Linked DNA regions of Homo sapiens. The protein of the gene in region 1 interacts with the protein of each later gene in a biochemical or structural test. Each region holds a gene or a part of one and is shown in the gene's direction. Other genes may lie near its edges. The genes, in order: GRB2, REPS2, MET, FASLG, MAP2, CSF3R and WAS.

The links.
Region 2: the proteins of GRB2 (region 1) and REPS2 form a complex in vitro, tested with the Homo sapiens proteins (2 studies listed by BioGRID and IntAct, with this or other methods).
Region 3: the proteins of GRB2 (region 1) and MET form a complex in vitro, tested with the Homo sapiens proteins (3 studies listed by BioGRID and IntAct, with this or other methods).
Region 4: the proteins of GRB2 (region 1) and FASLG form a complex in vitro, tested with the Homo sapiens proteins (2 studies listed by BioGRID).
Region 5: the proteins of GRB2 (region 1) and MAP2 form a complex in vitro, tested with the Homo sapiens proteins (3 studies listed by BioGRID and IntAct).
Region 6: the proteins of GRB2 (region 1) and CSF3R form a complex in vitro, tested with the Homo sapiens proteins (2 studies listed by BioGRID, with this or other methods).
Region 7: the proteins of GRB2 (region 1) and WAS form a complex in vitro, tested with the Homo sapiens proteins (2 studies listed by BioGRID).

What each region holds. Positions count from the first base shown.
Region 1 is NC_000017.11:75,325,269-75,329,656, reverse strand, and holds part of GRB2 (growth factor receptor-bound protein 2), read left to right. Parts: intron 1-3,636; coding exon 3,637-3,759; intron 3,760-4,388. UniProt on the Homo sapiens protein: Non-enzymatic adapter protein that plays a pivotal role in precisely regulated signaling cascades from cell surface receptors to cellular responses, including signaling transduction and gene expression.
Region 2 is NC_000023.11:17,022,876-17,027,263, forward strand, and holds part of REPS2 (ralBP1-associated Eps domain-containing protein 2), read left to right. Parts: intron 1-2,183; coding exon 2,184-2,310; intron 2,311-4,388. UniProt on the Homo sapiens protein: Involved in ligand-dependent receptor mediated endocytosis of the EGF and insulin receptors as part of the Ral signaling pathway. By controlling growth factor receptors endocytosis may regulate cell survival.
Region 3 is NC_000007.14:116,695,308-116,699,695, forward strand, and holds part of MET (hepatocyte growth factor receptor isoform b preproprotein), read left to right. Parts: intron 1-442; exon of another isoform or gene 443-449; coding exon of another isoform or gene 450-492; intron 493-3,763; coding exon of another isoform or gene 3,764-3,777; coding exon 3,778-4,388. UniProt on the Homo sapiens protein: Receptor tyrosine kinase that transduces signals from the extracellular matrix into the cytoplasm by binding to hepatocyte growth factor/HGF ligand. Regulates many physiological processes including proliferation, scattering, morphogenesis and survival.
Region 4 is NC_000001.11:172,664,523-172,668,047, forward strand, and holds the end of FASLG (tumor necrosis factor ligand superfamily member 6), read left to right. Parts: intron 1-1,099; coding exon 1,100-1,494; 3' UTR 1,495-2,354; downstream 2,355-3,525. UniProt on the Homo sapiens protein: Cytokine that binds to TNFRSF6/FAS, a receptor that transduces the apoptotic signal into cells. Involved in cytotoxic T-cell-mediated apoptosis, natural killer cell-mediated apoptosis and in T-cell development.
Region 5 is NC_000002.12:209,689,108-209,693,495, forward strand, and holds part of MAP2 (microtubule-associated protein 2), read left to right. Parts: intron 1-1,495; coding exon of another isoform or gene 1,496-1,741; intron 1,742-3,517; coding exon 3,518-4,388. UniProt on the Homo sapiens protein: The exact function of MAP2 is unknown but MAPs may stabilize the microtubules against depolymerization. They also seem to have a stiffening effect on microtubules.
Region 6 is NC_000001.11:36,472,576-36,476,963, reverse strand, and holds part of CSF3R (granulocyte colony-stimulating factor receptor isoform a precursor), read left to right. Parts: intron 1-1,290; coding exon 1,291-1,587; intron 1,588-3,076; coding exon 3,077-3,200; intron 3,201-3,341; coding exon 3,342-3,529; intron 3,530-4,277; coding exon 4,278-4,388. UniProt on the Homo sapiens protein: Receptor for granulocyte colony-stimulating factor (CSF3), essential for granulocytic maturation. Plays a crucial role in the proliferation, differentiation and survival of cells along the neutrophilic lineage.
Region 7 is NC_000023.11:48,681,685-48,686,598, forward strand, and holds the start of WAS (actin nucleation-promoting factor WAS), read left to right. Parts: upstream 1-2,114; 5' UTR 2,115-2,169; coding exon 2,170-2,301; intron 2,302-2,598; coding exon 2,599-2,739; intron 2,740-3,862; coding exon 3,863-3,949; intron 3,950-4,049; coding exon 4,050-4,152; intron 4,153-4,261; coding exon 4,262-4,303; intron 4,304-4,396; coding exon 4,397-4,450; intron 4,451-4,914. UniProt on the Homo sapiens protein: Effector protein for Rho-type GTPases that regulates actin filament reorganization via its interaction with the Arp2/3 complex. Important for efficient actin polymerization. Possible regulator of lymphocyte and platelet function.

The sequences.
Region 1 (4,388 bases):
CCTCCCAAAGTGCTGGAATTAACAGGCGTGAGCAACTGCACCTGGTGCCAGATTTTTTATTTCTTGATCTGGGTGCTTATAACAGAGTTGTGGTTTTTTTGGTTTTTGGTTTTAATTCCAGTTAGAGTACTTTTTAAACATTATAATTTGTACTTCACTACAATTTATTTTTTTTAATTGAAAATAAAATTGCGTTAATTTTAAGCTGGGGGCAAGAAAACACAGCAGCCATGTCTATGTGACACCAGACAGAAAGGTCTGGAAACCTAAGTGTTAGAACCGCCAACACGTGCTGCCTCTGGGGAGTTTGAGGGAAGCATCTTACTTTTTATGTTTGCTTCATGTACATCTAGGCTATTTCAGTTTATATTCATTATTTTATACCTACAAATGGGAAAAAACCTCCCTAGTGGAGAGATCTTGGGGGCCTAGGAGGAAAGAGAGCCTTGCTGATTGAGAATCTTCACCCTCACCATTGCTATTGGAAGTGGCAGTGGTGGGGAGTGTGGGGCAGTGTGGGGAGAGCCAGCCGAGGCCATGTGTGGATTTTCACTGCTGTACCCAGTCAGATGCATGCTGCATACACTTATATTAGAAACCCAGGGCCCCCCGATATGAGAAGGTTTAAATACCGTTGATTGGGGCCCCCCGATTGAGAAGGTCTCAATACCGTTAAGTGTCCTTATTTATTTATTTATTTATTTATTTATTTATTTTTTGAAAGCGAGTCTCGCTTTGTCGCCCAGGCTAGAGTGCAGTGGCGCGATCTCGGCTCACTGCAAGCTCCGCCTCCCAGGTTCACTCCATTCTCCTGCCTCAGCCTCCTGAGTAACTGGGACTACAGGCACCTGCCACCACGCCTGGCTAATTTTTTGTATTTTTAGTAAAGACAGGGTTTCACCGTGTTAGCCAGGTTGGTCTCGATCTCCTGACTTTGTGACCCGCCCGCCTCGGCCTCCCAAAGTGCTGGGATTACAGGCGTGAGCCACCACACCCGGCCTATTTAATTTTTTTGAGATGGAGTTTCACTCTTGTTGCCCAGGCTGGAGTGCAATGGCACGATCTCGGCTCACCGCAACCTCTGCCTCCCGGAGATTCAAGCGATTCTCCTGCCTCAGCCTCCCGAGTAGCTGGGATTACAGGCATGCGCCACCGCGCCTTGCTAATTTTGTATTTTTAGTAGAGATGGAGTTTCTCCATGTTGGCCAGGCTGGTCTCGAACTCCTGACCTCAGATGATCCGCCCACCTCGGCCTCCCAAAGTGCTGCGATTACAGGCATTGAGCCACCGCACCCAGCCTCCTTTTTTATTTTATTTATTTATATATTTTTTTGAGACAGAGTCTCACTCTTTCGCCCAGGCTGGAGTGCGGTGGCACAGTCTCGGCTCACTACAACCTCTGCCTCCCAGGTTCAAGTGATTCTCCTGCCTCAGCCTCCCGAGTAGCTGGGATTACAGGTGCCCACCACTGTGCCCATCTAATTTTTGTATTTTTGGTAGAGAGTGGGTTTCACCACGTTGGCCAGGCTGGTCTCAAACTCCTGACCTCAAGTGATTCACCCCACCTCAGCCTCCCAAAGTGCTGCAATTACAGGCATGAGGTACCGGGCCCAGCCTGTCCTTTTATATTTAGAGAGCATTCTATTCTAGTGATATGTGATTTCTCTTGTGTGGCCTGATTTCCAGGCACTGCAGGCCCTAGCCTTGAGTTATTTGTAGAAGCAGGAGGATCTATTGTCCCAGCTCCTCAGCATCCTGGCAGTAGAGTATGCAAAATGAGAAAGACTCCAAGCAGGTAGATGTCAGACTATTCAGAGTTACTAAGAGTCCCTAGAGGCTGACACACACACACAAGGACAAAGTTACTAAGGGCAGCTTCTAAGTGTATCCTTCCTAGCAGATCACATCTTTCTGTTTGAATTTGAGTATAGTATATTATTTTAGGTACATCTTCCAATATGGTTGCTTATAAGTAAGATATGTAAATTAGCCGGGCGTGGTGGCTCGCGACTTTAATCCCAGCACTTTGGGAGGCTGAGGCGGGCAGATCTCGAGGTCGGGAGTTCAAGACCAGCCTGGCCAATATGGTGAAACCCCGTCTCTATTAAAAATACAAAAATTAGCTGGGCGTGGTGGTGGCCGCCTGTAATCCCAGCTACTAGGGAAGCTGAGGCAGGAGAATTGCTTGAACCCAGGAGGCGAAGGTTGCAGTGAGCCGAGATCGTGCCACTGCACTCCAGCCTTGATGACAGAGTGAGACTCTATCTAAAAAAAAAAGGGCCGGGCGTAGTGGCTCATGCCTGTAATCCCAGCACTTTGGGAGGCCAAGGCAGGCGGATCAACAAGGTCAGGAGATCGAGACCATCCTGGCTAACACGGTGAAACCCCATCTTTACTAAAAATACAAAATATTAGCCGGGCATGGTGGCGGGCGCCTATGTATAGTCCCAGCTGCTCAGCTACTTGGGAGGCTGAGGCAGGAGAATGGCGTGAACCCGGGAGGCAGAGCTTGCAGTGAGCGAGATCGTGCCACTGCACTCCAGCCTGGGTGACAGAGCTAGACTCCTCAAAAAAAAAAAAAAAGAAAAGATATGTAAGTTAGATTTACAACTTTAATGGACTATTTGGTCCATTAAAAGGACTTTTGATATTATAATTAGCATATTAAATGAATGCCAGTTTCCATGTTTATAGGTCTTTATTTGCTATAACTTTTGCTTTTAAAAATGATAACTAAAGACAATTTTGAGAAGAGAACATGGTTTTCACAGTTTCTTCTTCCTAATTATAGTTTTCATTTGAAATAGTGAGGCAGCTTGACTTGAAGCTCTTGTAGAAGTGTTCCTCTCCTCTTCCTCTTGATAAGCCACAGCCAGTTGCTTCACAGTTTTTCATGAATTTAGCCACTTTTTCTTCTGGCCAAGGTGAATCAGCAATTGGGAGCAGAAGAGTCTGCAACTTGCCTCAAAAATCTGAATTTTGCAGCTAGCTGCTGAGCATATGGTAAATTACAATATTCCTGGTGGCTTCTGAAAGCTGAACTCTGAGCAGTGGCCCCAGAGGCAGGCCTTGAGAGGAATGCTGACCTTAGTTACTGGTAGAGGCACCCTCATACTATCTGAACCTTTTGCCTTTGGGCTGTTAGCAAAAGTAACCCTGCCTCCAGCTCCTGGCCGTCCAGGTTTCCTCCCCACTTTCCCTTAGTCCCACTGTGGTGAAGCTGTGATCTTATCACATGGCTGCAGGAAGGGGCCAGTCTCTCCTTGGCAGTTCATCCCGTACACCAAGCCCAAAGGCCTGAGCTTTTCCCCAGGCGCCTTTGTCATGAGTCAGTAGGGAGTCCAGTGGGCTTTGGCCTGGGGGGCCCATTTTCAAATGTCTCCCTCTATAGAAAGAGTGACCCACGGTTAGTGCCTTGGTGAGTCGCTTTCTGGGAAATGGAGTAGGCTAAAGACCTTTGAAGGTCCATCTCTGGGGACCCAACCCAGTGTCGATCTTGGGCACTGTGAGGCTGGAGGATGAGGAGGGAGGCCCCTTCCTCTGGCAAGGAGTGTTGTGTTACTCACATTTTGAAGGCTGGATATCCCGTTTCTTTGTGGGGAAGCAGATGTTGACCAGCTTGCCTTCCTTCCTTAGGTGGTTTTTTGGCAAAATCCCCAGAGCCAAGGCAGAAGAAATGCTTAGCAAACAGCGGCACGATGGGGCCTTTCTTATCCGAGAGAGTGAGAGCGCTCCTGGGGACTTCTCCCTCTCTGTCAAGTAAGTATTTCCTGCTGCAGTTGCCTGGAATCCTGTCTCTGACTGATCCAAATTGTGAAGCCGTTGGTCAGGTGCCTGGCTACACACAAAATGGTGGAGGCTTAGCCTAAACAGTTTCTTCATTTCACATTAAAATCCTAATTTCTGGCTCCTCTCAAAATGAGTTCTAGAAGCACTGGATGTAGATTCCCATGTGGACACAGCCTTCAGGAGGTGAGCAGCAGCTCCCTGCAGCCAGCTGGAGCCTGCCAGTTTTCCCTAGTGCCCAGCACTCCTGAGCTTCTGCCCTCCAAGGGATTCCCGCAGCTCTCTCTAATGGGATAGTGGAGCGCCTGTCGGCTGCCTTGGCTTGCCTTGCTCAGGTCCACTGACTTAAATCAACCAGCCCCATCCTAGGCCCTCACAGTCACTTAAGAAGGCTGCTGCAGGGGATGTGGGGCTTGCATTTCCCCGGTGGAAAGTTCAGGTGTGAAAGGGAGCGGGTAAGCAGGGAATGGAGAAGACAGGAAGTTCTGCCGCCATGGAGAGTGTGGAGAATAGAAACCAGCACTTGAAGATTCTAAACAATTCACACCTCAGCTGTGAAGTCGGGATTTTGAATTAAATTGTTATTTCCATGTTTTTTACTT
Region 2 (4,388 bases), on another chromosome or scaffold:
CAGGTTTGGAACCAGAACAGGGAGGATAGGCTTTTAAAATTAGACCACTAATTGCAATGGTCAGATGATGATTGGTGGAGACAACAGTATAAAATCTCAGAAGAGTGGGCAGATCCAGAAGAAGTAAATAGTCTACACATTGGTGTACCCTGCAGGCATCAAGGTATAGCTCATACTTCCAGCAAAGATACTGAATCATGCAGAGAAGTCAAATTATGTTCAACATAGTGTCTTCTATAAGGTAAAGAAATTTATTATAGGAACACTTGAGGCTGGGCACGGTGGCTCACGCCTGTAATCCCAGCACTTTGGGAGGCCAAGGCGGGTGGATCACAAGAGGTCAGGAGTTCAAGAGCAGCCTGGCCAACATGGCAAAACCCTGTCTCTACTAGAAATACAAAAATTAGCCGGGCGTGGTGGCATGTGCCTGTAGTCCCAGCTACTTGGAAGGCTGAGGCAGGAGAATGGCTTGAATCCGGGAGGCGGAGATTGCAGTGAGCCGAGATCACATCACTGCACTCCAGCCTGGGCCACAGAGCAAGACTGTGTCTCAAAAAAAAAAAAAAAGGAACACTCGAATGAAAATGTTTTTAAAATGCAATGAATATTAAATGATTATGTTGGAAAACTAACTTCTGTGACTTACCCTGTGATGTTGTGTAGATGAGGTGTTGCTACAGAAGTTTTATATGGATAGTTAGGGGAGGTGTAGCACATCCTGTTAAACAATTCCATGTACTGTCACTTTCATAATTCTGACACATTTTAAATCAGTTCTTCAGGGATATATTTAAAAAGGAAGAGGTATAGGAATTTTCAGTCAATATTCTTTGGCATATTTTCCCACCAGCATTTGGAGAGGAATGAGGGTCCACTGTCCCACGGTGGTTGATGCCCTGGGAAATTTCCAGGCCCAGTCCCTGATTGTGTGAATGAGAATACATCCTTTCACTTCAGGCTGAGTTTATGCATGCCCCACCCAATCTATGGGTGTGAGCTCATGCTTTAGAGCAAACATATTTTGCTTTTTCTTGAAGAAGAGTATTTGATCAGTATTTCAGATTACATATTTCTCTTTAGACTAAGGGAGCCTATATATATAGTCTGTGTGTTGATAGAAAGCATTGTTTTGGCTGGGTGTAGTGGCTCATGCCTGTAATCCCAGCAGTTGGGGAGGCCGAAGCAGGAGGATTGCTTGAGCCCAAGAATTCAAGACCAGCCTGGGCAACATAGCAAGACCTCATTTCAAAAAAAAAAAAAAAAAATTAGCTGTGTGTGGTGGCGCATGCCTGTAGTAGCTACTGGGGGTGCTGAGGTGGGAGGATTGCTTGAGCCCAGGAAGTCAAGGCTGCAGTGAGCTATGATCACGCCACTGTGCCCCAGCCTGGGTGACAGAGCGAGACCCTGTCTCAAACAAACAAACAAACAAAAAAAAGCACTGTTTTCTTGGTACTTGAATACTCCAAAGTTACCAGTCTACTAGTAAAGTTTTTTTTTTTTTTTTTTTTTTTTAAAGAGGAAACTCAGCAGCAGATAAGGTTGCTTACTTTGCCTAGGGTTCTACATCAGGTTCATATTTGAATTGAGATTCAAATTGTAGCTTGTTAAGATTTCATCTTAGTGTTTGGGAGTAAGCTGGTTGGAATGGTTTACCTATAATGAATTGTTTTGCAGTCTCTCATTGTTAAAAAAAAAAAGCTAGCATTTTACTTTGACATGGTAAGCTCCAAGAATATTAAGTATTAAGCATTTAGAAATATATATTTTAATATTCACATTTGCTGGAAGACTTGATAAGTATAAATCCAGGAAATAAATTTATTAATGAATGAAAATGAAATCTATCCACAGAGAGATCACAATTGGGAGCGGGTATGAATGTTATTTCATGTGATCAGTGTCTTTCATTTTCCAAAGGAAAATATTATTGGAATAACCAAAAGTGTTTCAGGCTGGTTTTAGTAATTTAGGTAACTCAGCACTGATGAGATTTTATTCTCTGGGAGACTTTTTGAATCCTCAGACACTGCTGTTTAACCATGCTGCATTTTTGAGAAAACATTTCCCCCCATTTGTTAAACCAGCTGGGTCACCAGCAGTAGAGTTGCGTTATGCTTCCTGACTGCAGCTCAGAACGCCAGGCTTGAGTGAGCGCCTCTGAACTCTGATCTGGTTCTTTGAAGCAGGAAACACAGTCTCCCACGATGTCACCCCTCGCCTCCCCTCCTTCTTCCCCGCCTCATTACCAGAGGGTGCCCTTGAGCCATGGCTACAGCAAACTGCGGAGCAGCGCAGAACAGATGCATCCAGGTAAGAGGCGACCTGGGGGCCAGCTGTCCCAGGCAGTGTCTTAGAGACTCCTTAATTTACCAGGCGGTAACGCTTCAAGCTGCTTAATTTCCTGATTTAATTACCCCTGTCTTTGGAAACATGGCTCAATTTAATTTTATATTCTCAAGCAAGGTTTTTTTTTAAAAATTGATTTAAACATATTTGAGTAATGTTTCATCTCCTGTCCTAGAAACTAGTTCGTCTTTAGACTTGTAAACAGCTAGATGATTTAATCTTTCATATACAGATTTTATTGAATAGAACATACCATATTAAGGGCTTGTATTTTTTTTGGAATTGTTATTCCTTTCTGTAAGCACACCAAAGATATTTATATAGTAACTGCTTTAATGAAATTTCTTAAGAAATATAACTGCAAAAGCAAAAGAGTTGATCCAACCTTTGAAGACTGAGCACGTAAATGAAAATATATAGGTCCTGTGCTTTGGAATAAGGATAAAGGAAATGCTAGGGGTAGCATTTTGCTGAGGGGTATGTAGCATGCACAGTTGTGGGGTTGCCTTCTTGCTCACATTTATGCTCTGCTGGCCTCGTTAGGTGGTAAAATACGTTAGTTCTGAGGATGACTTGCAGAGTTGGCTGTTTAGGCTGCAGTGCCTAAAGCACTGGAAATTCACTGCAGCATCTTGTGCCTCCTGGGGTTCAGACTCCTAGTTTAAGATATGACCAATTAAAGGTATTCTAGAACTGGATATCTGTAAACCCCCACCCCCCCAGTTTTGTTTTGTGGGCTGTGGCCCCAAATGACCCAGTTTCTGCAGGTTTTTACTGCATTAAAAATAGTGGTGACTTTTAGAGGGACACAGAAATAAAACTGCGCGCTAGGCTGAATAAAGAGAGGCTGTAATCTTGCAGAGAGAAGCAGGCGTGGCATAATGGCAATAGCTTTTGATTGGAAGCAGAAGGTGTGTGGGTTTCTGTGACTAGCTGTAGGACTTTGGGCAGGCCATTGAACATCTCTGAACCACGATTACCTCTTCTCTCTTAAAATGGAGTAACAGTATCCTAGAGGGGTATTAGAAGATTAAGTGAGAATGTGAGTATAAAATCTGTTTGGAAATTAAGTCCTATGCACATGCAAGATGATGTTGCTAATGGATAGTAACAAAAAAATCACTGTCCTGTAACTTGAATATCTCAGTGGGGTTAGAAACTAAATGGAGTTGAGAATTCTTCATTTTCCTCTTATAGTTTCCCTGATCTGATTTCCCTATTTTCAGGAGTGGGTTTTTTTTTTTTTTTTCCTATTTCTAATCTTACTTGGGTTTGGAAGTTGGTTTTTAATTCACAGGTGAAACTTTTTGTTCTACTGAGTCAGCCTGTCAGCAAGTTCTACCTTTGGTATTCCTTAGAAAACTTTTCTGTTCCTCCTCCTTAATGCCCCATTCCCTCCTCATTCCATACAAATTGGGCTTCCATTTCCCCAGTGGTAAGGAAGCAGCTTGCTTCTCTCCATCTTTCTTGACTCTCAGCAGCCTGTGCCAAAGCTGTCCATGCCTTCATTTCTTTTCATACTTTTTTAAAAGTGAGGTAAAATATACATATGATAAAATGTACCCGTTTTATTTGTTCATTTTTGAGACAGGTTCTCACTTTGTCACTCAGGCTGGAGTGCACTGGCGCGATCATGGCTCACTGTAGCCTTGATCTCCTAGGTTTAGGTGATCCTCCCACCTCAGCCTCCTGAGTTGGTGGGATTACAGACATGTGCCACCACACCGGGCTAATTTTCTTTTTGTATTTTTTTGTAGAGATGGGATTTCGCCATGTTGCCCAGGCTGGTCTCGAACCCCTGGACTCAAGCGATCCGCTCTCCTTGTCCTCCCAAAGTACTGGGATTACAGGTGTGAGCCACAATGCCTGGCCATGCACATGTTTTAAATCTTCAATTTGAGTTTTAGCAAATGGATAGGCCCTTGTAGCTACCACTTTGATCAGTAATTGAACATATCCATTATGCCAGAGATGACCCTCTCCGGTCACTCCCTGCCCCCTAACGCAATCACTGTTCTGATTTTCATCACCATCATTAGTTT
Region 3 (4,388 bases), on another chromosome or scaffold:
CCTTTTCTTCTATCCCTTGTTATTCCCTCTACCAGCACCAAAAATTTGCTAGTACATTGCAAAACAATGAGAATTACAGATAAAATAGCAAGCATTTATATATACTCTATATTGATCAAAGTGCTTTCAGAGATGAGATCTCTTTTTGATCCTTAAAATGGTCACGTGAGAATATCTGACCCTGGGACTCAGAGGTGGGTGATTGCCTGGAGTCACACAGCTAGAGAGGGAAAGGGCTAGAATCAGAGGGCTGATTGTCTGACTTCTGTTCTAGTGCATGCTCCCACCTCGCTTTGGAAGCTGCTTCGGCATAGTGAAGCACTTAAGAGCATGGATGGGTTCTTGTTAGCCAGACGTGGAATTGAATCTTGGTTCTAACTGTGTGATTTTAGCAAGTTTGCTTATCTAGAAGAGAAGGATAATAATACTTCCTTCTTCACAGGGTGGTGATGAAGAGTAAATCAAAGAGTTTAGCAGAATGCTTCCCATATGGTAAGCACTCAATACATGTTCTTGTTATTTTTATTATTACATGGCTTTGCCTTACTGAGGCTTCATCTTGTCCTCTGGTCCAACTACAGTTCTCTAGCTTGGCTTATCCCTTCATAACCTGTACCCCCAGTGGCACGATCTTGGCTCACTACAACCTCCGCTTCCCAAGTTCAAGCAATTCTCCTGCCTCAGCCTCCCAAGTAGCTAGGATTACAGGCACCTGTCACCACACCCAGCTAATTTTTTTGTAGTAGAGATGGGGGTTCACAGTGTTGGTCAGCCTGGGTTCAAACTCCTGACCTCAAGTGATCTGCCCACCTCAGCCTCCCAAAGTGCTAGGATTACAGGCATGAACCACCGCGCTCAGCCAGGAATTTTCATTCTTTATCCTCCTTTGAGACTCGGCTCTAGCATCATTTCCAGTCGAGTTGGTCTCCCTTCCTCTGCATTCTGATAACTGTTAACCATCAAGTGACTTGAGCTTCCCAGGGAAGGGCATCATGTCTTTGTAGACATCCAATAAATGTTAGTAGAAGAAAGGGGGGTCCTGCCAATAATCATATGTCTTTCCCACAATTTAAACTCCTTTTCACCCTGTTACTACTTTTTGCTTGTCTTCCCTTTGATAAACATTCTACTTCTTCATCACCCATTCCCTCAATTTAACATCTGATACTACTATAGAAACTACTGCCTTGAAGATCAACAAACGGGTTCCATGTGGACCAACGTCCTCCTTGAGACCCTCACTTGGCTTTTGTGACACAGTGCAATATTTGCTCTCTTGATGCCTCACTGACCTTAACCTTCCTTGACTCCTGCATAGATTTCTCAACTGTGGGTATCCCCTAAGATTTAGGCCATTTGCCTTCTCTTCTTTCATCTAGTCCATTCATGAACACACCCATTCCTGGTTTTAACCATCACCTCTGTGCAGATAATGTGCAAAGTTTATTTCTAGTCGGAGTGGAGTCTCTGTTACTCTGCCAATCAAGTTCTAAATTTTTATTCCTTCTAGTGCAGCAGTGGCAAATACCTGACACTCATGTGTCTCACTCAAGACAGATACTGTTTCACCCAAGACTGATCATGCCGCTTTCCCAGTCAAGGCAGGCTTCTCAGAATCCTTCTCATTTCCGCCTCTGTTCTTTGGCACTAATGCTCTGTCTGCCCAGAGTTTTCATTCTTCACTTGTTCCAGGCACCTGCTTCCTGGTGAATAATGTAAAACCTGCTAGTCATCCTTATAGGAGAATATGCACTCATTTCCCAGCAGCACACCCGACTCAACGTGGTTAAAACCAATCTACCATTCCCATATATTCAGCCTAACTTCCCAGTGCAGTCTACCCTAGTTTTATAACTTGTTCTACTTTTTCCAGATAACTGCTAATCATCTTTGTTTGTCTTTGCTTTCTTTTTTGCACTGTGTTTGATATATTAGGGTATCAAATCCTACTTATTCAAATATGTCCCTTATTCATTCCTTCTATCCTTGGTGCTACCATATTTGTTCTGGCTCTTGTTACCTCATTATGGGATATAAAAATAGCCTGTCAACTGGTCTTTCCATTGCCAGGATCTCTCTGTTCTAAGCCACCCTGCCTCCAGATCAATCTTCCTAGAGTAAAACCTTCATTGTATGACGGTCTAGCTCAAAATTCCTTAATGATTATTAATCACCTCTTAAAGTCCCCAATTCTTAGACTATTAGTAGGGTAAAATTATTTTTGATTTGGAGTCAAAAAATTTTGGACGCAAATTTTGGCTACTACACTTAACCATTATGTAACTTCGAATTTCGGCTTAATTTTTATTCATCATTTATTCAGTATCTATTTGTTTAACACCTTCTGCATCTCAGGCTCTGTACTAGGTACTTGGGATACAATGATGAGCCAAGCAGACCTTGTCCTTGCTCTCCTGGACCTCACAACATGGTGAACTTGTCTCTATTGCTCATGATCATAATAATCCTAAGTACAGGCTGTGCTTTTTTCCCTTGATACTTGTAGCTTTTGGTTTGTGCTATGCAGGGTATTGTAATACCATTTGCAGTGCCACAATAATCAGCATATATGTGTTATCACTCAGCCACATTGCAGCTTCACTGAAGGGCAGGGGCTATGTCCCATTTCTCATAGCGCAAGCACAGTGCCCTGCACATACCAGCTGCTCAGTGATTTCTGATGTGGTTTTTGTAGATCCAGGGTTAGTCTTTGGCAGTCATGATGCCTAGTATGTTTTTAGAGGCTCCCTTTGTCCTATCAGAATTATGCTATTTAAAAAAAAGTCATACCTATTTAGTTTATATTCATTCTAAGGCCTCTCCTTTCCAACCTACTACCCTGCCTATAACTATTATAAGGAGAACTCACAATGTTTATAACTTGTGCACCTTAAGTTTTAAATACTGAATAACAGGCCCATTCATGTTTCCTCATAGAAATACTGTCTATATGCATACAATGAAATGTTAAAATAATGTTCTTTTTACTAAATAGCTTTTTGACTTGGTAATGAACAATATGTTGTTTTTCCCTGAGAAGTAGTTCTAGGACTTTAGTTCTGAAGATTATGTTGTATTTTATACATTTTCAGCCTCCTGTTTTTCAGTTCCCAGTGATCTTACATTAAACATTTGTCTGTCTAAAACAATAGGTTAACTATAGCCAAATTATAACCATACCATTCCTCTCCACACAAAATCCTATAAACAGCATGTGATCATATTGCTTCTAGAATTTATGATTGTTTTCTTCCAAAAGGAAGCTAAATTTAGCCTAGTAATTCTACATGCGCTCAAGAAAACAATGCCTGCTGTGATTTCTAGAATAAATGAATGTGAACCACAGTTCCTTTACTTGACTAACAGAGAAAGTTTAAATATCAACCTAGTCATTAACCACAGTTATTAAACCACGTTAAACAACCAGCAAGGGGTTAAGAAAGAAAGTTGCTATGTTTTTTCTTTCATTGCTGAATGAGTCTAACTTAGTTACTGTATCAACCTTAATACAGAACATTGTTTGCATCTCAATGGTTCTCTAAAATTATTCGTTCATGGCTTGAGTTCTAAAATTAAACTATGTGGAGTCATGTCCAACCGCACAATGCATCTTTATGTGAAACTTGCTAGAGTTTTTGTTTTCCTTCTATGTAAAAGTCCAGTTGGGAAGCTTTATTTCTGATAGATTAAATGGTATAGGTCTTTCAGTTTTCTCTTCATTTCTGACAACTGAACTGCTCTCGCCTTGAACCTGTTTTGGCAGATAAACCTCTCATAATGAAGGCCCCCGCTGTGCTTGCACCTGGCATCCTCGTGCTCCTGTTTACCTTGGTGCAGAGGAGCAATGGGGAGTGTAAAGAGGCACTAGCAAAGTCCGAGATGAATGTGAATATGAAGTATCAGCTTCCCAACTTCACCGCGGAAACACCCATCCAGAATGTCATTCTACATGAGCATCACATTTTCCTTGGTGCCACTAACTACATTTATGTTTTAAATGAGGAAGACCTTCAGAAGGTTGCTGAGTACAAGACTGGGCCTGTGCTGGAACACCCAGATTGTTTCCCATGTCAGGACTGCAGCAGCAAAGCCAATTTATCAGGAGGTGTTTGGAAAGATAACATCAACATGGCTCTAGTTGTCGACACCTACTATGATGATCAACTCATTAGCTGTGGCAGCGTCAACAGAGGGACCTGCCAGCGACATGTCTTTCCCCACAATCATACTGCTGACATACAGTCGGAGGTTCACTGCATATTCTCCCCACAGATAGAAGAGCCCAGCCAGTGTCCTGACTGTGTGGTGAGCGCCCTGGGAGCCAAAGTCCTTTCATCTGTAAAGGACCGGTTCATCAACTTCTTTGTAGGCAATACCATAAATTCTTC
Region 4 (3,525 bases), on another chromosome or scaffold:
ACACTTTTCTTGTCGAGTCAGTCTTATGAACACACTTTGATCCCCTATTCTCTGGGCAAGGCCCTCTTCTAAATTGGAGACCTGGAGCTGATTATGACATGACCCCTGCCCATAAGAAGCTCATTCTTTTCAGTCATTCCAAAGTCCCTTGGGGGATTGGGGGCACAGATCCAAGAGGTGAGAGATGAGAAGGTGAGGAATGAGGACTTATTTTAGTCAGTGCTTTCTTGGTTTTCTGGAAGAGCTTCACTCTGCTTTGTCCAAGAGTATAAATAGGAGTGAGAAGGGAGACTCAATCCTGGCACTTGTAGAGTTTCAATATGTGCCTGTAAAGTGGAGTGAAATGATATGGTATGGGCACTCCCATTATAAACTACATAAATAATGGAATAAATATCACAGAAAGTGGTAGGCTATTGTCCCTGGAATTATTTAGGCAGAAATTATAGAATGATCCGGTCACATCAGCAGACACTTACTGAATACCTGCTGTGTGCCAATTTGGGGATGTGAAGATGAGTAGCACATGGCTCTTGCCCCCAGGGAGCTTGACATCTAATAGGGAAAGACAGGCACTTATGATAATTTCAGTACTTCAGAGATTTAGGTTATGTTCATGATGTTGTGGGGATACAAAGAAAAGGGAACTGTACCCCAAATTGAGGGGCTGAATAATTCTTACTGCAGGTGAGAAGATGGACCAGATGGTCCCTAAGATCCTTCCCAACTTTAGAACTTTAGAGTTCCTTGGATTTGGCTTTTTCCTTCAGGAAAGGACTTCAAAGCCTAGCAGATTTGGTGCTAGTTCTGAAGATAGTAAAATCTTTGTTCCAGAGAGCAAATATTTTCTCAATAATTTCTTACTGCAATGGATTACGGGTATATACTATTGTTCCAATTGTGTGGATGACAAAATAGGACAACGTTGTTGAGGAAATTCTGTGATGGATCAAGTTCTGACCCCTCAGCCAGTTCTATACCAGCTGTCATTCTGGGTGAAACATTTGTTGAAGGAAGGGCCCACAGTTTTGCCTTAGAAACTTAGTTTGTTGGATGCATGACTATTCCTTGTTGAAAGCTCCTTTTGGATTTATTTCAGGCAAGTCCAACTCAAGGTCCATGCCTCTGGAATGGGAAGACACCTATGGAATTGTCCTGCTTTCTGGAGTGAAGTATAAGAAGGGTGGCCTTGTGATCAATGAAACTGGGCTGTACTTTGTATATTCCAAAGTATACTTCCGGGGTCAATCTTGCAACAACCTGCCCCTGAGCCACAAGGTCTACATGAGGAACTCTAAGTATCCCCAGGATCTGGTGATGATGGAGGGGAAGATGATGAGCTACTGCACTACTGGGCAGATGTGGGCCCGCAGCAGCTACCTGGGGGCAGTGTTCAATCTTACCAGTGCTGATCATTTATATGTCAACGTATCTGAGCTCTCTCTGGTCAATTTTGAGGAATCTCAGACGTTTTTCGGCTTATATAAGCTCTAAGAGAAGCACTTTGGGATTCTTTCCATTATGATTCTTTGTTACAGGCACCGAGAATGTTGTATTCAGTGAGGGTCTTCTTACATGCATTTGAGGTCAAGTAAGAAGACATGAACCAAGTGGACCTTGAGACCACAGGGTTCAAAATGTCTGTAGCTCCTCAACTCACCTAATGTTTATGAGCCAGACAAATGGAGGAATATGACGGAAGAACATAGAACTCTGGGCTGCCATGTGAAGAGGGAGAAGCATGAAAAAGCAGCTACCAGGTGTTCTACACTCATCTTAGTGCCTGAGAGTATTTAGGCAGATTGAAAAGGACACCTTTTAACTCACCTCTCAAGGTGGGCCTTGCTACCTCAAGGGGGACTGTCTTTCAGATACATGGTTGTGACCTGAGGATTTAAGGGATGGAAAAGGAAGACTAGAGGCTTGCATAATAAGCTAAAGAGGCTGAAAGAGGCCAATGCCCCACTGGCAGCATCTTCACTTCTAAATGCATATCCTGAGCCATCGGTGAAACTAACAGATAAGCAAGAGAGATGTTTTGGGGACTCATTTCATTCCTAACACAGCATGTGTATTTCCAGTGCAATTGTAGGGGTGTGTGTGTGTGTGTGTGTGTGTGTGTGTGTATGACTAAAGAGAGAATGTAGATATTGTGAAGTACATATTAGGAAAATATGGGTTGCATTTGGTCAAGATTTTGAATGCTTCCTGACAATCAACTCTAATAGTGCTTAAAAATCATTGATTGTCAGCTACTAATGATGTTTTCCTATAATATAATAAATATTTATGTAGATGTGCATTTTTGTGAAATGAAAACATGTAATAAAAAGTATATGTTAGGATACAAATAATTTTTAGAATTTACTAATATTTGAATTTTTTGCTTATTATTTCTTTCCTCCTTGATTTCTTCATTCATTATGATATCAGACCACTTTTAAGAATAATTTACTGGAGTGAGAAGAACTATGAATCAAATCTTTCTGCCTTTGCTAGGCCTTCCTTCTCTCTATATATTCTCTTTCCTCTTCACCTCCCAGAGTTTCCATTACCAATATTATGACCAATGTTAAGCTTAGCCAACTTTCCATAGATTTGATGAGAAATTATATTTTCCTGAAGGCAGAACCATGGCACAGTGGAAAGGGCACATATTTTGGACTAAAAAACTTAGATTTGAATCTTTGTTCTTCCACGTACTGCCTATGTAAGCACTGGTTAGGTCACTTGACCTTCCTTGAACAAAAAAAGAGCTGAAAGTATCAGACACATAGAACATCAAAAAATAGTGTCTGCCACTACTAAGCCACTCTATTAGAGCCACTTCATTCTCCAGAGGCCACTGATCTGTGGGATCCATCTAAGCACCTGGTTTCTTGTATTCTCATGCTTGTCATTCACAACGGCCTTTTCCTATTTTCTTCAACCACTCACTATCATGGGCTCTCCCTAGACTTTGTTATCATTAAAAATTATAGTAACTCCTTTGGAATTTGATTTTAGGTGTCTTATTTTCACAACATCATCTTCTATTATTCCAGCGGAATTGGTCCAACATTTTCTTTTCTAAAATATTTTTGAAAATATTGAGACTTCTAATTAATAAACTTTATTATTTTCTTATATACACATCAGCTCCTTCCACGTCTTCACTTCTCTCTATGTCCAGCATAAATGTCATCATCTGTCATGACAACCAGCACCTTGGAAAGACTCTCAACTCCAAAATACTCTCTTCCTCCAATGTATTCCCCTTGCAAAAATCCTATTTTCTTTAAGCTGTCATCCCAGAAGCTGGATGTTGCTGGACAAAAATTACACAAACAGGCTGCCTAGTTTTAGTTTATTTTTATCTAACATGAATTTAAATCAATCAATGATTGATCTGTCACTGACTTAGTTTTATTTTTTGATTGATTTGAATAGGTAGTACATGTACATGGTACAAATTTTAAAAGATACATAAGGATATATGACAAAAATAAGTCCTCGTTCCACCCTGTCTAGTGGCTCAATTTTTGC
Region 5 (4,388 bases), on another chromosome or scaffold:
TTTATCCAAAAAGGTAACATTATAATGCAGTTATATTAAAATTCTTTTAACTGTAATCAAAATCTATGGCATTATAAAAATTTTCTTAAAATAACAAGTTAGAATTTAAATTTTTAAAATGCTACTTAAAATGCCATAATTAAATTACAAAACTAAAAATGAGTGCTAAATGTGAAGAGATTGATAATGTAGATTTTTTTTTCTCTCTCTGTTTCTCTCTGAGGATATTAATATTTCTAAAAAACAAAATAAAAGAAAATTCCTTTTCTTTTTATCTGTAGTCTTTCCCTCAGGGCCGTTTAAACAATGCACAATTATTTCATAAGAATTTTGTAAGAATCTTCCATTTACAAAACTATAAAACAGCTCATATATTTCTCTCTAATTCCTTAAGTGACCAAATGGAATTTACTTATTTTTACTGACATTTCAAGTGTAAATGAGAAACAAATTAGTGCAATAACTCATGAACTTGAAAAGTTTATCTTTACATCTTAAATGTTAACTTTTTTATGTGATATACATGGTTTGGGGGGTGGTTATTTTGGCCGTTTGATTGCCACTCAATTATCTTTCCTTGGTGATTTTGTTTTGAATTACAGAAATAAGACTTTATTACTAATGTGCATATTTTTTCTTTAGTGTCAAAGAGAATTATACATGAACTACATTACTGATATTTCAGGGAGTTTAACAATATGATAATAGTTGTGTCCCAGAGGTAGACTTTTGTAAACAGATTTAAATTTAACCTTGACCTTGTTTTTAACACATTTTATTTTACTTACTTTTTGAAAATGTTCATTTTCTCCAACATCATACAATGCAATGAAGCTAACATAACTTGACTTAGGTAGTCCCTTACCTTGGAAATGCTAAATAAATTATATTTTAAGTAAATTTGGTGGACTTTGTGATAAAGCTGTTAAGGTAGTTGGTTGGATATTCTTTTGAAGCAAGGCTTTTTTTATTCCCAAAGATTTCTTTAGCAAAATTTGCACATTTTAAATAAAGCAGCCGGGAATTCTTATGTAGGGGCTTCCTGCATTGGCGAAAACAGCACATGTCTAACAAATTTAAAGGCTTTTTTTTTTCAGTACATCAGTACATCCATCTTTTCACAACCATCTGTTATCCGGCAGTACCATCTCTTATTTCCAGCAAGCTTTCCACATGCGTGCAACTTACTGCCGTTTCCAATAAGGGTAATCAATCAATACAACCCTTTCAGCTCTCAAACTTTAAAATAAATTGCCTTTTAATGAGACTTTAAAAGTCATCACTATTAGCAGATTATACATCATAGTTTTCCAACCAGTACCTAATGTATGTTGCATTAGAATATTAATTTGTTCATCCCAATGGTAAAATAAAAAAACAGCTGAGGTCTTCATGAGGTCATTCTAATGGAGCTGAAAGTGTTCCTTTAGCAATATTTCTGTCGTTTCATGTATTGTTCTGTGGTCATGATGTCAACATCTTTTTCATCCCTAAGAAGAAGAAACGCTAGAGAGTCGGATGGCTGAGGAAGAGAAACCTGCTGCTCTTCCTGAGAAAGAGTGTGGGGCTGCTAAGTCCTCAGACCAACCCAAGGGCCTCAGTAAGGGCCAAATGGAGTCTAGTGCGGAGGCCCAAATAGTTCCCGAAGAGAGTGCCCCAGCAGGGGCCCCACATGAGAAAAGTGTAAAAGAGGTCAAGGAGGTGTCTCCAGAAGTAAAAACCCCTTCCTCTGCTGGGGAAGGTGTGTCTTTCTCAGGATTTGCATGTGTTTTGTTGCAAATGATCTCTCCAGTGGCTTACCAACCTGATGCCTTTCCAACGCTATTTCGCTATTTCATCGCTGGGTCTTATGATAACAAGTCCACTGTTGTAGGCTTAATGTGCAGAGAGTGTGGCTTGCGCAAGTGCTGTGTGGCAGCTGGTTTTCCAGTGCTGCAGCTGATTCCTGGTTTTCCTTTGCCATGATACAATACGCTTTGCAGCCAGGCTGATGATGCTATGTGAGCTTCTTTTTTTATTTTATTTTTTTACCCGCCCCCCCTCATCTCAAATGTTTGCCAGTCACATTGCTAATACATGTATATTTTTGTTTTTATTTTGGGGACAGCAATTCATATGCTTTTATTTCAAATCGTACAGTTGGATTTTGGCACATAGAGGCTTAAATGGTGGAATCGTTTTTGTTTGCAACCGAAATGTGCTATATTTTTTATGCTTCAATGAATACTGGTTTGATTTTCTTGACCTCCTGCTGATGCTTCTCATATCATTTTCTCCCCATGGCAGCCAGCCCTTCTGATCATCCCCATATCTCTTGAGTTTTCATTCATCTAACCTTTATTAGAAGTTCATCAAGTATTTTTTTTTCTATTGTTACAACAGGACACATAAGTATATAAGGTAATGATGATCCATACACTTGCTCTTTTAGAGATGATTGAATTTTATTATTTTTCCCCAAATCTTTTCCAGATAACTACATTTAGCTCTAATGACCACAGTGAACTACTTTGACCTTAAAACACAAGTGGGACAATAAAGCCTTTTGGATTGTTGAATAAATAAAAGTAAAAATGTGTTATCTAATTTCTGTGAAGCACCTCTAAAGCCAATACTGGCCAATGCTTCACCAGTTAGTCATGCTCCAAGGATTGAGGTCATGACCATGGGAATAAAGTTATTTCAATAGTTGACTCTTTTGAAAAGTTTGTTACTCACATGACTTCCCAGTATCAACAGTGTAATTCAGATTTTCTTATATCTACCGTACAGACTAAGTAATGATTAGGAATTTAAATTTTTAAATATGTAATAGAAACTGGCTTGTAAATTCTTAAGTCATATCATATAAAATTGATAGCAAATATTTACTTATATTTCTGAAATTTATCCTCAGATGAATTCTAAAAATTTATGCCAGTAACCTGTGGATGCCTAAAGAATTGGCCCTGACATTTGTTAATCAAGTTAACTGCAACTATTAACATTATATCATTGTGCATTACTTGGCCCTCTGCCCATAGCCTACCAATTCATTTTTAAATGATAAAACCAATGAAAATGTTCAGTATAAATCAATTCTTTATCTATATTTAGTCCTTACTATATATTCTTTTGTACCCTAACATTAGCTGCTTACTCAATATTCATTAGCTTATAACTTTTATGTATAGAAGGCACATGAATTTGTTTCTTCTGTAATACACATCACATAATGTTTAGGAGAGACCAAAAAAAAAAAAAACAAAGAAAAAAAGAGAAAAGAATATCCAGAAATATACTGTTCTTACAATTCCTTTGCACATTAATTTACAACCAGAGTTCATTTTAGTAATAGTACACATATATCTCAGTCCTGACCTTTTCATATTGACTTTTACATGGGTAGCATGCTTGCATGTTCCATAATTTTTGTTTTTATTCTACCATTCATTTATCACTTCAAAATATAATTTTAAGCTTATTTCCTGAACGCACTTGCCTATTATTTGTTTAAAAATCAACCCGATTACTTCAGATTTACTTACAGCCTCGAAGATGGAGTTCCACGATCAACAGGAATTGACTCCCTCTACAGCTGAGCCTTCAGACCAGAAGGAAAAGGAGTCAGAGAAGCAAAGTAAGCCTGGTGAAGACCTTAAACATGCTGCCTTAGTTTCTCAGCCAGAGACAACTAAAACTTACCCTGATAAAAAGGACATGCAAGGCACGGAAGAAGAAAAAGCACCCCTAGCTTTGTTTGGGCACACTCTTGTTGCCAGCCTGGAAGACATGAAACAGAAGACAGAACCAAGCCTTGTAGTACCTGGCATTGACCTCCCTAAAGAGCCTCCAACTCCAAAAGAACAAAAGGACTGGTTCATCGAAATGCCAACGGAAGCAAAAAAGGATGAGTGGGGTTTAGTTGCCCCCATATCTCCTGGCCCTCTGACTCCCATGAGGGAAAAAGATGTATTTGATGATATCCCAAAATGGGAAGGGAAACAGTTTGATTCTCCCATGCCAAGTCCCTTTCAAGGGGGAAGCTTCACTCTTCCTTTAGATGTCATGAAGAATGAAATAGTTACAGAAACATCGCCCTTTGCCCCTGCCTTTTTACAGCCAGATGACAAAAAATCTCTGCAACAAACCAGTGGCCCAGCTACTGCCAAAGATAGTTTTAAAATTGAAGAGCCCCATGAGGCTAAACCTGACAAAATGGCAGAAGCACCACCCTCAGAGGCAATGACCTTACCCAAAGATGCTCACATTCCAGTTGTAGAAGAACATGTTATGGGGAAAGTTTTAGAGGAAGAAAAGGAGGCCATAAATCAAGAGACTGTGCAGCAAAGGGATACTTTCACCCCCAGTGGACAGGAACCTATACTTACTGAAAAGGAAACTGAGCT
Region 6 (4,388 bases), on another chromosome or scaffold:
GCACAGTGGTTCACATCTGTAGTCCCAGCACTTTGGGAGGCTGAAGCAGGAGGATTGCTTGAGCCCAGGAGCTCAAGATTAGCCTAGGCAACATAGTGAAACCCCATCTCTACCAAAAAAAAAAAAAATCAAAAAATTAGCAAGGTGTGCTGGCATGAACCTGTAGTCCCAGCTACTCAGGAGGCTGAGGTGGGAAGATCACTTGAGCCTAGGAGGTCAAGGGTGCACTGAGCCGTGATCGTGCCACTGCACTCCAGCCTGAGTGACAGAGCAAGAACTTGAAGAAAAAAAAGAAAAGAAAAAGAAAACCAAAACAAAACAACAACAACAAAAAAAAAAAAACAGCAGGGACAAAGATCCAGAGATTAGAAAGATTTTGGAGTTTTCAAAGAATAGCAAGAATGAGCCAGAATAGCTGGAGCTGAGAGACCGGTATAAGCTGGAACTGAGAGGGTCAGGCAGGGGCCAGGCCACAGGAGCTATTGAAGGATTTGAGTGTTTATCCTAATGATGGCAGCAAATACTCACATGCCAGACACTGCTCTAAATGCCTTCCATATGTTATCGCATGTAATCCTTCCAGCAACACTAAGGTAGGGACGATTTTTATCCCCATTTTACAGATGAGAAAACTGAGGCACAGGAAGTCTTAGAAATATACCAGGATCATGTAATTAATAAGCAATAGAACCAGAATTTAAACCTAGGCAGTCTAGTTCCAACATCCACACTCATCCATCACACCACACTGCCTTTCAGAGCAATAATGTGCCATTGAAGTGCTGCGATGGAGATGGGGTAGCAGAATCAGATTTGAATTGTGAAAAGATTGCTGTGGCTATGGGTTCTTATCACTCTAATCACTGCTTGCACCATCCTTGGGGAGGGCACTGGGGAGTTAACAGTCTCCATCTGGTGGTGTGCTGGTGCTGGCTTGCAAAAACTAATTGTGCACATCTCTTCCCAACTCCCCGATCAATGATGTCACATCAATAGGCTGAAATCAGCTACAGTGAGAGCACTTACACCGCGGAAAGGCACACACTACAAACCAGGGTCTGCTTTTCTCTGCCAAGCTGGCTGATAAACGGTTACCAGCACATCACTATCTCTGTGTCACCCCCGTAGCCTCTCGAAGTCTCCGTCCCCATCCTTCCATTTCCAGCCCCCATATCTTGAAGGGTGAGACAGGAAGGTGAGGCCTCTGAGTCTAGGAGTACAAAGGCCTAGATTATAGCCCAGCTCTGCTAGGCAGAGGCGTCGTTCCTGGCCCATTCTCTTCCACCCCAGGTCTGGAGGAGTGCGGGCACATCAGTGTCTCAGCCCCCATCGTCCACCTGGGGGATCCCATCACAGCCTCCTGCATCATCAAGCAGAACTGCAGCCATCTGGACCCGGAGCCACAGATTCTGTGGAGACTGGGAGCAGAGCTTCAGCCCGGGGGCAGGCAGCAGCGTCTGTCTGATGGGACCCAGGAATCTATCATCACCCTGCCCCACCTCAACCACACTCAGGCCTTTCTCTCCTGCTGCCTGAACTGGGGCAACAGCCTGCAGATCCTGGACCAGGTTGAGCTGCGCGCAGGCTGTAAGTCCTTCCAGCCATCCAACTACTCTGCCTCCAACACCCTCCTGCCAATACTAATAAGAATATTACCAGCCGGGCACGTTGGCTCACGCCTGTATTCCCAGCACTTTGGGAGGCCGAGGCAGGCGGATCACCTGAGGTCAGGAGTTCATGATCAGCCTGGCCAGCAAGGCGAAACCCCGCCTCTACTAAAAATACAAAAAAATTAGCCAGGCATAGTGGCGGGTGCCTGTAATCCCAGCTACTCGGGGGGCTGAGGCAGGAGAACTGCTCGAACCCAGGAAGCGGAGGTTGCAATGAGCTGAGATCACACCACTGCACTCCAGCCTGGGCAACAAAAGCGAAACTTGGTCTCAAAAAAAAGAAGAAAAAAAAAAAAGAGTACTACCTATTGAGCTCTTATCTAATAAGCACTTTATGGGCATGATATCAGGTAACAGTAGTACCAGTTGGTACTACTATGTAGCCTCACTTTGCAGATGATGAAACTGAGGTTCAGGGAGGGTAAGTGACTTGCCCTTATCACACATTAATAAGGATGGAGGCAGTGTGGCTCTAAAGCCAGTGTTGTGACCACTACTCTACATAGCCCAAGTCCTCAGCCATCTGAGGGTGTCTCCAGGGAGAACATCCTCTACCAGCTGGGCTTGTCCCCCACCCCAGTTTCAAACTTCCTTTCAAACTGAGCAGGATGGAGTTTGTGCCAAGCTGAGGCATAAGGAAAAAACAAAGACCGAGGTTCTTGTTTAAGAATCAGTAATGGGCCAGGTGCAGTGGCTCACACCTGTAATCCCAGCACTTTGGGAGCCTGAGGTAGGTGGATCATTTGAGGTCAGGAGTTTGAGAACAGCCTGGCCAACATGGGGAAACCCCGTCTCTACTAAAAATACAAAAATTAGCCGAGTGAGCCGAGATCACGCCACTGCACTCCAGCCTGGGCCACAGAGTGAGACTCTGTCTCAAAAAAAAAAAAAAAAAAAAAAAAAGCACCAGTAATGGCCACTGCTAACACTTACATAGCATTTCCTGTAAGTTAGGCACTGTTCTGAGCACTTCATGTAGAGTGAGTCATTTAGCCCTTGTGATAACGCTAGGGGGTGGGATTTTACCATTATCCCCATTTTACAGATGAGGATGCTGAGGCATGGAGCAGTTAAATAACTTCAAGATCACAGGGCTAATGAATGGCAGGACCAGGATGAAAACTCAAACACTACACTGTCACTGACAAAGGGTCTAGAGTTGGGGGCCTTGGAAGTGGGCCACCACTGGGCTGCTGGGAGTCTGTGATGCTTGCCCCGGTGCATGCCTGCAACTTAGCTTCCCCCAGGGCTGCCCTTCCAGAGCCACTCTGCCTGGAGACAGGGGGACAGACAAGGTGACAACAGAGGAACCAAGCCAGGGCAAGGCAACAGGGCCAGCTGGTCCCAGAGGAAGCTTTCTGAGTGGTCCCACCCAAAGCCCTCACACTCTTCCCACCCACATGCAGACCCTCCAGCCATACCCCACAACCTCTCCTGCCTCATGAACCTCACAACCAGCAGCCTCATCTGCCAGTGGGAGCCAGGACCTGAGACCCACCTACCCACCAGCTTCACTCTGAAGAGTTTCAAGTGAGGAGGGGCCCCCACCTTGGTCCCCTCCCTTTGGATTCTGGGGTAGGGCATGGGTAGGATGCTGGGCATGCCTCTGGGAGGGAGAAGGGAGCCTCGCTTTCTTCCTCTGCTTGGCACCCAAGCCTGGACTATTGGCAGGAGCCGGGGCAACTGTCAGACCCAAGGGGACTCCATCCTGGACTGCGTGCCCAAGGACGGGCAGAGCCACTGCTGCATCCCACGCAAACACCTGCTGTTGTACCAGAATATGGGCATCTGGGTGCAGGCAGAGAATGCGCTGGGGACCAGCATGTCCCCACAACTGTGTCTTGATCCCATGGATGTTGGTGGGTGATGCAGGGGAGGGAGGGGATCCCCAAAATGGGCAGACACTGAGAGGAATGGAGAGGGAAACACAGAACTAGCGACAGACAAGAAGACACTGGAAGACCTAGAGACAGAGGCACAGAAGAGGGACAGAGACAAAGAAAGGTGCAGCTGGAGACAGAGAAATGGGGACACAGACCCAGAGACAGGAAGAGACACAGAGGCAAAGAGACACATTCAGTCATGCTTTCAGCGTGTTTCCTAAAGCACCCACTACATGTTAGGCACTGCTCTAGGTACTGGGGATACAAAGCATCAAAAATGCCCTCAGAATGTTAGATTCAAGTGGGGGGGAAAATAAGATAGAATTTCAGATAGCAATAAGCAGAAAGGAGAAATTAAAGGAGGAGAAGGGCATAGAGAGAGAGGGGGGAAGGGGAGCACTGGCTATTTTAATATGCTGGTCAAGAAAGGCCTCACTAAGAGGGTGACAATTGAGCAGATCCTTGAAGGAAATGAGGGAGCAAGCCGCTGGATATCTGGAGGGAAAACATTTCAAGCAGAAGTAACAACCAGTGCAAAGGCCCTGGGGCAAGAGCGGAAACAGAGACCTAGAGAGAAACAAAGACACATAGAGATCGAACCACAGAAACGTGTCATTGGCAACGTGGACAGATGGTGAACCACAGACAGGGAGACAAGAGGGAGCTAAGGCAGAGCCCTCTAGGGTGGGATAGGGAGACCTTCTGACAGCCCCACTCCTTGCAGTGAAACTGGAGCCCCCCATGCTGCGGACCATGGACCCCAGCCCTGAAGCGGCCCCTCCCCAGGCAGGCTGCCTACAGCTGTGCTGGGAGCCATGGCAGCCAGGCCTGCACA
Region 7 (4,914 bases), on another chromosome or scaffold:
CAATGGCCTTGAAGGCCACATCGGGGCTTGCCCTGATCAGCAGGTTGGAGGTGCTCCAGGCCCGAAGCTTAGCTGTGAGTGGGGACACGGGAGGGAGGTTGGAACTGCCACTGCAGAAGGGGTTCTGAACCTAGGTTCAGGAGAGAGGCTTTGAACCTGCACGTGTGGGAAGCCATGGAAGTTTCCAGGAAGGACTGCAGGTCCCAACTGGAGATGTGCCGTTCCTCCTTCAGGTACCTGGGAATGTCAGTCACACCCCAGACCTGCTCAGCTCCCCCAAACTGCTGTTCCTGTATCTGAGAGCTTCAAGTCTCCAAATGGCCTACCTCATACATGGGGAAACTGAGGCCTGGGGAGGCCGGGGACTGAGCTAGCATTCACTTGTGGAAATAGTCTGGCATCATCTGGAGAAGTTAGAGACATGCAAACCCTACAGCCCTCAGATTCCCGTCTGAGAGTCTGCATGCCTATGTGGACCAGGAGATGTGTGCGGGAGTGAACACTGCAGTGTTGCTCCCAACAGCAAGAACCAGAAGCAGCCCAAAGGGCTGTTACAGGAGAATATGGACACCCAGGCTGCACATGCACACCATGGAATGCTGTATGGCAGTGGAAATAAATGAACAGCTACCACTATAGGCAAACAGGAATCACAGCAACAGCCAAGAGTGAAGGCGTGGAGGGACGAGACCATGCACTCACACCTGGCCTGCCTGGCTCGCACTCCGGGCAAAGGGGTCAGAACAGTGACTGGCACACACGTTAAGTGCTATGTGAGTGTTAAGATAAAACTAGGATGTCCAGTGGGGAGAAAGCAAGCCTTTGAAGATTATGTGCTTTTACAAACTTCAAGTGCAATGAAAACTAAACAAGATGTTGTTCAGGCATTCATATATGATATAAAGTTCCTTTCTTTAAAAAAGGGATGGGCTGGGCACGGTGGCTCACGCCTGTAATTCTAATACTTTGGGAGGCCGAGGCAGGTGGATCACGAGGTCGAGAAATCGAGACCATCCTGGCCAACATGGTGAAACCCTGTCTCTACTAAAAATACAAAAAAATTAGCTGGGCGTGGTGGCGTGTGCCTGTAGTCCCAGCTACTTGGGAGGCTGAGGCAGGAGAGTCACTTGAACCCGGGAGGCAAAGGTTGCAGTGAGCCGAGATCGTGCCACCGCACTCCAGCCTGGCGACAGAGTGAGACTCCATCTCAAAAAAAAAAAGAAAAAAAAAAGTATGACAAGCAGAAAGTAATTTGGGAGCTGCGGGGAGGCAAGGGTAAGGGATGGGGAAGTGGACCAGAGGCATATGCGTCATTGGCAGTGTCTAAGCACTCACGATAGGCGTGGATCACAGGGGCTCGCTCTGTAATTAAAAGGAAAAGGGTTTTTGTTGTGTTGTTGTTGTTGCTGTTTTTGAGACAAGGGTCTTGCTCTGTCATCATCCAGGCTGGAGTGCAGTGGTGCAGTCTCAGCTCACTGCAACCTCCGCCTCCTGGGTTCAAGCGATTCTCCTGCCTCAGCCTCCTGAGCAGCTAGGACTACAGGTGTGTGCCACCATGCCTGGCTAATTTTTGTATTTTTTAGTGGAAATGGGGTTTTGCCATGTTGCCCAGGCTCGTCTTGAACTCCTGACCTCAAGTGATCCACTCGTCTCGGCCTCCCAAAGTGCTGGGATTACAGGTGTGAGCTATTGTCCCCAGCCAAAAGGAAAAGTTTTACTGTAGTAACCCTTCCGGACTAGGGACCTCGGGCCTCAGCCTCAGGCTACCTAGGTGCTTTAGAAAGGAGGCCACCCAGGCCCATGACTACTCCTTGCCACAGGGAGCCCTGCACACAGATGTGCTAAGCTCTCGCTGCCAGCCAGAGGGAGGAGGGTCTGAGCCAGTCAGAAGGAGATGGGCCCCAGAGAGTAAGAAAGGGGGAGGAGGACCCAAGCTGATCCAAAAGGTGGGTCTAAGCAGTCAAGTGGAGGAGGGTTCCAATCTGATGGCGGAGGGCCCAAGCTCAGCCTAACGAGGAGGCCAGGCCCACCAAGGGGCCCCTGGAGGACTTGTTTCCCTTGTCCCTTGTGGTTTTTTGCATTTCCTGTTCCCTTGCTGCTCATTGCGGAAGTTCCTCTTCTTACCCTGCACCCAGAGCCTCGCCAGAGAAGACAAGGGCAGAAAGCACCATGAGTGGGGGCCCAATGGGAGGAAGGCCCGGGGGCCGAGGAGCACCAGCGGTTCAGCAGAACATACCCTCCACCCTCCTCCAGGACCACGAGAACCAGCGACTCTTTGAGATGCTTGGACGAAAATGCTTGGTGAGCTGGGGATCTCCTGCCCCCGCCCCGTCCCCACCGTTTCTTCCTCTTCCTCTCCTCCTTCTCTCTCTTCCCCTCCTCCCGCTCCTCCTTTCCCTCTCCATCATCTCCTCTCCTAGAATTTCCCGTCATAATCCACCCTTCCCAGGAAGATCTCAATGTCTACTTGCCTTCCCTCTGGCTGCAGCTCTTCCTTTGGGCCCATGACTGTCATGAGGCAGGAAGGACCAGGTCTGGCTCCAAGACCTTGTGGCTACCCCTGACCAGACTCCACTGACCCCTGCTTTCCTCTCCCAGACGCTGGCCACTGCAGTTGTTCAGCTGTACCTGGCGCTGCCCCCTGGAGCTGAGCACTGGACCAAGGAGCATTGTGGGGCTGTGTGCTTCGTGAAGGATAACCCCCAGAAGTCCTACTTCATCCGCCTTTACGGCCTTCAGGTGACCCCCCCACCCCCGACTGGACTTGCAAGCCAGTTCTCAACCCGCAAACCCAGATCTGTGTCCATATGTGTCCATAGCTTCAAGACCTCAGACCTGATCAGTGAATCCCTGAGCCCCAGAACCAAAGACTCATCCAGATGGCAAACTCTGACTTGCCTTTCTAAGTCTGCAATGACTGGCCCCAGTCTCCGTATCAAGATCTCTAAAGCCCCCAGTATTAGTCTGCTGCCTAAGCCTAATCTTTTCCACAAATTCCAATAAATGAGCACTGTATTTGTACCTGAACCTCAAATCTATTCTAAACTCAACATTTTGCATCCCAGGAATCTCTCATCAAAACTCCTGAACCCCAGATGTTTGCCAAGCTCCTAAGTCATAAATCTGTTCAACAAACCCCAAAGTTGAATATTCCATTGATCCTTGAACTCCAAATCTGTCCTTCTAAATCCACAGCACAGACCCCAGAGTTCCCATATTAAAATTCCTGAACACTCAAATACCGAGGTAGTTCTTAAGCAAAAAGTCTTTTCCACAATCCCCTGACCTGAACTTTCTAGGTTTAAGCCCCAAATTCATCCTTTTAAACCCATAAAGATGGACCCAGCATAACTTCCAGATCCCAAGGCTATCAAATATCCACCAAACTCCTAAACCATAACTCTCTCCACAAACCCCAAATTGCACTTACTTTAGCTGGACTCCCCGCGAAACTCCCAAGTCTATGTGTCTGAACTTCAAATCTCAACTCCAACCCCCAAATACTAGAATCCTACCTGTCATGAATTGGGGCTGGGGTGGTGGGGGAGGGCATGGATTGAATCTGTGAATGAGCCTCAACTTCCTAAGACTAGAGTCCTAAATTATGAAATTCAAGCCCCCAAGTCCCAGATCTAGGGCCCCAAACCCCAAATCCAAACCTCTCACAAAAGTGTATGGCTCCCAGACTATACCCCACAATCCACACCCTTAGACACCAACTCTCTGGTGCTGAGCTGAAAATCTCCAAACCAGACTATGAGGCTCCCAAATCCAGACACCCTGCTCCCTGCCCAGCTAACAAAAGCCTGCCACCCCCGGCGTGCCTCAGTGCCACTGTGCCTCCCACCCTACACCTCTCCAGGCTGGTCGGCTGCTCTGGGAACAGGAGCTGTACTCACAGCTTGTCTACTCCACCCCCACCCCCTTCTTCCACACCTTCGCTGGAGATGTAAGTGATCAACCAGCCCTCGGGCCTCACTTGGGGTGTGGAGAGGAGATGGGAAAGTTGCGGGGGACCTGGGAGGCGGCTGACCCCAAGGTATGTGCAGGACTGCCAAGCGGGGCTGAACTTTGCAGACGAGGACGAGGCCCAGGCCTTCCGGGCCCTCGTGCAGGAGAAGATACAAAAAAGGAATCAGAGGCAAAGTGGAGGTGAGGAGGCCACAGGGGAGGAAAGGAAGTTGGGCAGAGGTGAGTGCAAGCCTGGGGAACTAGAAAAGTCCCCTCTCATGGTCCTGGCTCCCAATCCATCTATCCACAGACAGACGCCAGCTACCCCCACCACCAACACCAGCCAATGAAGGTGAGTCCTCTAGTGCAAGTAGGGGTAATAAGGGGCTAGCCCAGGAACCTGTGGCAGGGCTGTGATAACTCTCTACACATTCCATCTTCCCAGAGAGAAGAGGAGGGCTCCCACCCCTGCCCCTGCATCCAGGTGGAGACCAAGGAGGTGCGTGCTGATTCTTCCCTGTGTCTCTGGATGGATGGGTAAGAGTGGATGGAGGAATGAGGAGTTGGATGGGTGCGTAAGTGGGTGAATGGATAGGTAGATTGATAGGTATGTGGATGGACGAGCAGGTGCATGGATGTGTGGACTGATGGATGGGTGGATGGATTGGCGGTAGATGGCTGAGTAGAGGGATGAATTGATGGGAGGATGAAAGTCTAAGTAGATAGATGCATAGGTGAATGGGTATGTGGATAAATGAATGAAAAGGTAGATGGATGACTGAGTAAATTAATCAATGAGTGAATGAATGAACAGTGAATAAATGACTAAATGACAAGTTTCAGTCAGTGAAGAAAGCATGATTGAATGAATAAATGAGTAAATGAATATTTTAACAAATTCATTAGTCAATGAGCCAGTGAATGATAAAGCATGAGGGAATGAAAACATGAATGAATCAGTGA